Linked DNA regions of Homo sapiens. The protein of the gene in region 1 interacts with the protein of each later gene in a pairwise test. Each region holds a gene or a part of one and is shown on either strand. Other genes may lie near its edges.

Region 1 (2,941 bases):
TGTAACCCATGGCTTTTCTGAACTTTAATCTCCAGCCTCCTTACACAGGTGCATAAGATGGCTCCAGTACTTCATAAACTAAAGCAAGGGCGAATTAAGATATGGCCTGATGCTCTCTAGGGAGATGTTCTAAGGAGGGATAAAGAAGACTGGGCATGGCGAACTGTAGCCCACCCAGAGTGCTGAATCTGTGACAGTGAAATAAACCTACACTTCAGAAAGTGCTCTGAGAACCTAACATAACTCATCCCTCTATCCTTTGTAAGTAGCAACCTGGAAGGCAGCATCAGGCAGAGTTTTTTAATTAGACAGCTATGTATTTTGTCAGAAAATTTACTAAGCAGTTGGCTAAAAGAATGATTATCTCGAGCTGCACTAACTCTGATTAGTATCCATTAAACATCTATGGTTTTGGAGAAACCTCAAAGATAGCCAGCTATGTGCCAAAGAACAGACCAATGGCTATCAATACCACAAAGTTAGCACAAATATAAACCGCATAGTTTGTAGGAAAAGTTTATTTAATGGGGAGACTAAGACGATGCAAGATGGTTACTAGAAAAACATCTTTCAGTCTGGATAAATACACAACAAAGGATCATAGCTGAAATACCAGTGACCATCACAATAGGAAAGGTGGTCAGCTTGTGGAATTTTCCTTTTGGTAACCTTAAGAAGTCATTTTAGCAGTACTAACCATACAGTATATGTCAGGCACTGTAATAAACTCTTTACAAGTGGTACTTCATTTAGTCTTCACGACACTGAGGTATACTATTAAATGTCCCCATTTTACAAGTAAAAAAATTGAGGTTAGAGAGGCCACAGAAGGTACCTGAGGTTTGGGAAGTGTAGAACCAGGATTTAAATCTGGAACTCCTAGGCAAAAAAAAGTGTTTTAACAATCACAATATACAGCTTTACATTAGTAAAATTTTGAATTTGTTTTTGTTCATTGTTCACTATGCATGTTTTAAAATGTGAGGGTTATAGCTTATCTGTTAGGACAAACTCTCTAACTTCTAATTGATGGCTAGCCAAACATATCTTCAAAAAATAACTATTATAATTATACCTTAGTTTTCAACAACCAAAACAACATATCCAAAAAAAACTAAATTCCTTAACAGATCATTTATTAGTAAATCTTCAATAACTAGCACTAATCTTTGCCCAAATGAGGTAAGGCCTCCATTTCTGATTGGAATAATTAATTCCTTGGCCCACAAGAAATCTTAGGCTATTAAAGGTAAAAATCATGTTTGTCTTGAGTTTCTTAATAGTAATGGGCTTTTTATGTAGTAGATACTCAAAAGTCAACTGAGTCAACTAGGTAAAGCTGAGCAGGATAAGGCTTTATTCCCAATTTGCTTTCATAGCTCTGAATATAAGAAAATGACTCCAAAATAAACATTCTGTGGTTCTATTAAGCTGTTTTCAACTTTACATTATAAAAATGCTTAAAAGTTGAGAGATTATACAAAATGAATACCTGAATTCAAAGATATATCTAAAATGCAAAGCAAGGGTATTTAAATATTTGAATGTCAGGTAACTTTTGAGGGAAGAGGAATTGGCATTTTCTAGCTTCTATATATTTAAGCCAATTTATTAGATAATTACAGGTCTTGCAAATAGCTAGTAGAGTTAATTTGGCAAAGGTGAAAGGGAATCTGCTGTCTTTATCAATCTTGGAAAAGTCTGTACTATATTCCCTCTGGTAGAACATAATTAGGGATGCAAGTAATCCTGTTTGGTGACTATGGGGTGATATTGCCATCTAGTGGCCATTTTTCGCTGCAAGTGATCCCCTTTTCCGACTTATGCGGCAATGAAGAGACAATAATCAGGTGCATACACTTAAGCACTCATCTTTACATCTCACTGAATTATAAAGTCCTTGAGGAAGGGACCATGGCTATGTATTTTCTTTCCTGCATTAGGTATTTGTTAACCTTGAGGTGAGAACATGTTCCGGACCCACTTATATAATAAGCATATGAGAAAGAACATTTCATTCCTCATTCTACTCCACCTTCCCCAACCCCTAACTCTTCTGCTACTCAGGCCTGCTTACAAGCTGCCAACTGTAAAAATTGTGGTAGACTATCTCAAGTAAGTTTCCATTCTCATGACCACATTACCAATGTAAGTGGCACAAAACAGATTATTAATCAATTAATTAAGCAAATTGTGCATCACTGGCTTATCTTTACTTCCAAAGGCTTATCTTTACTTCTAAAGAAAAATAAGACAGTGAAGTCCTCCAGTTGCCAAATAAAATGCAACCAAATTGTCAGCAGAATTTCAGAATCATTATGATTCTAATAGCCATGTTTTATTGAATGCTTAAGAATGTGCTAAACATTGTTCTAATTGCTTTATGTGCATTGTAGCATATCATCCTCAACAAACAGAAAACAACAAAAATGTTATTTAGATTTTTAAAAATATGCAAATGTCTCTAATAAAGTTACGTAACTGTAGTTACCCAAATTACTTTGAAAAAAATGGACTGCTTTGGCAGGTAATTATTCTTTGCAAGACACATACTGAATGACCAAATTTATAGATGAAAGAGGGTTTATTTATTAATATATGATAGCCTTGGCTCAAAAAAGACAAATGAGGGCTCAAAAAGGAATTACAGTAACTTTAAAAAATATATTAAACATATCCAAGATCCTAAATATATTATTCTCCCCAAAAGCTGGCTGCTTCCAAACTTGATTTGATATTTTGCATGTTTTCCCTACGTTGCTTGGTAAATATATTTGCTTCTCCTTTCTGCAATCGACGTCTGACAGCTGATTTTTGCTGTTTTGTCAACTGACGTTTCACCTTCTGTTTCACCAGTTCCTGGAAAGATTTCATAAATTAGTATTACTGATAATGAACCATTTCAAAAAGTACACTGCTAATATCTGTTCTATTTATATAT
Region 2 (4,011 bases), on another chromosome or scaffold:
GCCACCCTGCCTGCGCTCAGCCCGGCCCCTCCGCCGCAGCGCCTCGGAGTTTGGGGGCTACAGGGGAAGAGGAAGCGTCTGGTCGGCTCCCGTCCGAGCTGCTCCACCTGCGCCGCTGGCCTTTCCGCCCGCTACGCACCTGGGCCCCGAGAGGCCAGAGGGGAGTGTCCCCAGTGGCCCGGGTCCCCGAAGGTGGCCCAGCTCGGGCGCTCGCGCAGCCGGGTACTCACCTTGGGGGCGCGGCGGCAGGAGAGCGCGGGCGGAGAGGTGCGGGCGCCCTGGGACGACCAGCCGAGGACGCCTGGTGTTTGGACGGCTGCCCCCGCGCTGTCCCCCCGTGCGAGGCGTGTTGGCCTCCGTGGCCTCGCGAGGGACCGAGGGCGGCGGGTCCGAGTGCCGCCCGCCGGCCTGGGCAGTGGCGGAGCGCGGAGCTGGCGGCGCCTCCGCTGTTGTTTTTGAGCCGCGAAGCCCGAAGCAGCAGCCGTTGGGTGGGGGCGAAGGGGAGGAGGCGGGGGCCGGGAGGCGCGAGGGGGGCGGTGGGGCCCGGAGGGGGCTTCGGAGGAGCCGGGTTCTGGCGCGCGAGCCCCGACGCCCCCTCCAGCGATCGCAGGGCGGGGACGGGGGCCGAGGGGAGAATGCAGGAGAAAAGCGGGCCGGGGCGACGGGGAACGCAAAGCTTTTAAATTAGTAATCAAACGCAGTAAAACGGAGCAAAACCAGCCCGGACTCGCGTCCGAACTATCGGCGCGTGTGCCCCGAGATCCAAGGAAGTCGTGTGGAAAACCGCAGCCGCCGCCCCATCTTCGGCCCCGGCTGGGGCGGGAGCAGCAGCGCGACGCGCCGCGACGCAGGGGCAGGGTGGGGGGATAGTCACCTCGCCTCCGGGGCCACCTGGGTCCTTTTAAAGTGTCCGGGGTGCGGGCCCCGGGCGGGAGCGCCGAACACGGAATGTTTTCTTAAAGGGCCAGTTCCGAGCTGCGCTGAAAAGGGGGGGGGGGAGAGGGGGGAGAGATAAGTGAGACGAAGACCGAGAAGGCCGAGGAGAGCCCCCCAATCCCGCGCCGAGGCGGCGGCGGCGGCGGCGGCGGCGCGACGATGAGGATGATGAATACATTGCAAAGTTTTTTTGGCCCCGGCGAGGGGTGTCAGATTGAGTGCTCTGTGCGCATGTGCGAAGGTGTCCAAACTGACAATGCTGGGGAGATGAAGATAGTGTGTGGCTGCTTCTGGACTCAAGGAGGAGGAGAGAGATTCCGCGAGCCGACACCATGCGATCCAAGGCGAGGGCGAGGAAGCTAGCCAAAAGTAAGTCTCCCGCGCTCGGCCGCGCCGCGCCGCCGGGGCCCGGGCCGCCGGGCCGGGGCGCCCGGGCCAGGGGTGCGCGTCGGGGCGCGGCCGGCGCGCCTGCGGCTCCGGGCCCCCGGCTCGGCCGCGCGGCCCGGGGGGCTGCTCCGCCTCCCGCGCTCCGGGGCGACCGGGCTCGGCGCGGAGGCTCGGGGCGCCCGGGCCGCGCGCTCCCCGAAGGCGCCGGCCCCCTCCCCGCGGAACCCCCTCCCCCCCCACCAGTGTCAGGCGCTCGGGCCCGGGAACCCGAGGCGCGCGGTGGGGGCCGGGGAGGGGGGCGGAGGGGGAGGGCCGGGGGTGGAGGGGAGCGAAAAGTGAAAGTTAGCGAAAAGTTGACGAAAGGGGAGAGCAACTTTTTCCTCCCCGCTCGCTCTCTCCCTCTCTCTCTCCGAGTGGCTCTCAGTCCTGGTCAAATCATATTCCGGGCTTTTGAAATAGTGGGCGCTAGAGCACCGCCTTTGGCGTCCGCCAGCCGGGCGCAGAGGAGGGAGACCCCGAGCCGGGGAGGGGCGGAGGAGGGGGCGCGGGCCGGCGCCCACCCGGCTCCGCGGGCGCAGGGGCAGGGGTGGCGACGGCGGGACAGCCGCAGCCACTTGGGGAGCAAAATGGAGACTTTTGCCCGGGCTGGGAACTGTGGTCGTGAAGTTTATCCCCGGCTGTGCCCCGCGTGGTGGAGGGCGCTCCTCTGGGACGCCGGCAGCCTGCGCGGGCCGCCGGGGCGACAGTGCCTCCGACAGGAGGGACCCACCCGGCCACCTCCCGACCCGCCGCTGCCGCCCTCGGGCCCGCGTGGACCCCTCTGTACCCGCTTGCCTGGCACAGCCGGGCCCGGCGGGGACAGAGCTGCCCCGGCCAGGCTGCCCGGTCCTCGGTCTTACTTTCTCTTTCGCTCCGTCTCGGCCGAGCCCCGGGCTCCGCGCGCCCCGCCTGCCGCCAGCCGGTCCTTGCCGCGGGCCGGGTGCTCCAGCCACCCGCGCCCTCGCCCGCCACAGCGCCTCCGAGCAGCCCGCGCGCACCCCGCAGCCCCGGTCGCCGGCGCCATCCGCGGTGAGGCGGGCGGGCAGGTGAGGACAGGCGGAGCCGCGGCCCGGCCAGCGCGGCTCCCGCAGCCCCGCCGAAGCCCCGGCTGCAGCGAAGCGGCCAGCGCCGCGCGGAGCGGAATCGGCGCCGCCTGCTCCCGCCGCCCCCTCCTCTGCAGGCCGCCCGCCCGCCCACCCGCAGAAGAGGCGCCCGGGCCGCTCCCCTCGAGGTCCCCGCCCGACCCACGCCGTTCCGTCCGCGCCTCCGGGGCCGGGTCCCTCCAGGCCGGCCTCGCAGCTCCCGGGGCCGAGCCCCCAAACGTGAGCCGGGTGCGCGCGGGACTCGCGGCGGTTTTCCGAAGCTCCGCTCCCTCGGCTCGGGGCCCGCCCGGCTCGTCCCAACAGCTGCCCCGCGGCCGTAGGCCCCGCGCTCTGTGCACCAGGGAAAAGCAGCTCCCGAGTTTGTGCCGGACGCTCCTGCGCCCCGCCATCGGCCGTTCCCGGCCCCTGGGTGAGGCGCCCCCTTCCCGCCGCGCTCCGCTGCCGGGTGCCCTCGGCCTCGGCCTCCCGTGACCTCTGACCCCTCTTGGTGCGAACAAGACCGGGCGTTTCGCCGCCGACGCGAAGGGGCTGTCTGTGCGCGGCGTTGCGGGCCCTCCGCGCGTGGGGTGTGCGTGTGCGTGTTCGGGTTCGGTTCTGTGTGTGCACCGCGGGCCTGCTCAGAGTCGGGACCACCGGGCTGCGTGTGGGCCGCCAGGTCAGGCCCTCGCCCAGGATGGGCCCTAAGCTGGAACGAGAAAGGGGAAACCGGCCGCGCTGACGCCGGGGCCTTCGCTGCAAGCGAGAGGCGGACTCGGCGCACCCGCGCGGCCCTGGAAACTTCCGAGAGGCCCCAGCTCTCCGCCGGCTCCACCTCTGCCAGGTGGGGAAGGTGGCCCGGGACCGGGTCCGCTCAGGACCAGAAGTGGTGCCTGGCAGCCATCTGGCCAGGAGGCCGGAGAGCCGGGCCCAGCGGGAGCGCCGAGCGCTGGCTTCCTTTTCCCGAGAGTCTTTAGTGAGGAAAAACCCCATGAGAGGTGACTGCCAGGCCTCGGCCCTCTGTCCACACTTGGCCGAGCGCTGGGAACCCCTCCTTCCAGGCTCCACAGCTGGGACCGCTTGTCCCAGGCCCCCCAAGGTGGCTGAGGCAGGTTCAGGATCACACTGCCTGCCCTGAGCAAGAAGGCAGGATCCGCTGAAGAATTTCATTTCATCAGGCGATATTTTAAGCAGATGTGAACTTCCCCGGGGACCATAGTCCATTACCCGAGTCAGAGGCGGTAGGGCCAGCACTCCAGCCAGCAGGTCCTCCCCTCCCCACAATGCTGACCAGGTCAGGGGACTGTGGGGTTGGGCAGGGGCAAGGTCATGGTTACCAGGTTGGTATTCAGGCTGGGCACAGAACAGCAACCAGGCCAGTGGAGGTGACCCCATGACCCAGCATTTCGGGGGCCACCGCCGAGTGTGCATCTGGAGGTGTAATTTCGTTTGTGTTTCCCTGGAGACCCCACTCCAAGCCTCAGTTCAGGTGGGTTAGTCCTCTGGATTGGGTCTTGTGAAGGGCCAAATGGTGGCGGCTCCGGGGGTGACCCGGGCTTCCAGCTGAGCT

The links.
Region 2: the proteins of RIOK2 (region 1) and PRDM16 interact in a two-hybrid assay, tested with the Homo sapiens proteins (one large-scale study listed by BioGRID).

Annotation. Positions count from the first base shown.
Region 1 is NC_000005.10:97,160,367-97,163,307, forward strand, and holds the end of RIOK2 (serine/threonine-protein kinase RIO2), read right to left. Parts: intron 2,860-2,941; coding exon 2,695-2,859; 3' UTR 501-2,694; downstream 1-500. UniProt on the Homo sapiens protein: Serine/threonine-protein kinase involved in the final steps of cytoplasmic maturation of the 40S ribosomal subunit. Involved in export of the 40S pre-ribosome particles (pre-40S) from the nucleus to the cytoplasm.
Region 2 is NC_000001.11:3,067,992-3,072,002, forward strand, and holds the start of PRDM16 (histone-lysine N-methyltransferase PRDM16), read left to right. Parts: upstream 1-1,211; 5' UTR 1,212-1,268; coding exon 1,269-1,305; intron 1,306-2,222; coding exon of another isoform or gene 2,223-3,872; exon of another isoform or gene 3,873-4,011. Other genes in the region: translation initiation factor IF-2, read right to left, coding at 957-980, 2,223-3,872. UniProt on the Homo sapiens protein: Binds DNA and functions as a transcriptional regulator. Displays histone methyltransferase activity and monomethylates 'Lys-9' of histone H3 (H3K9me1) in vitro.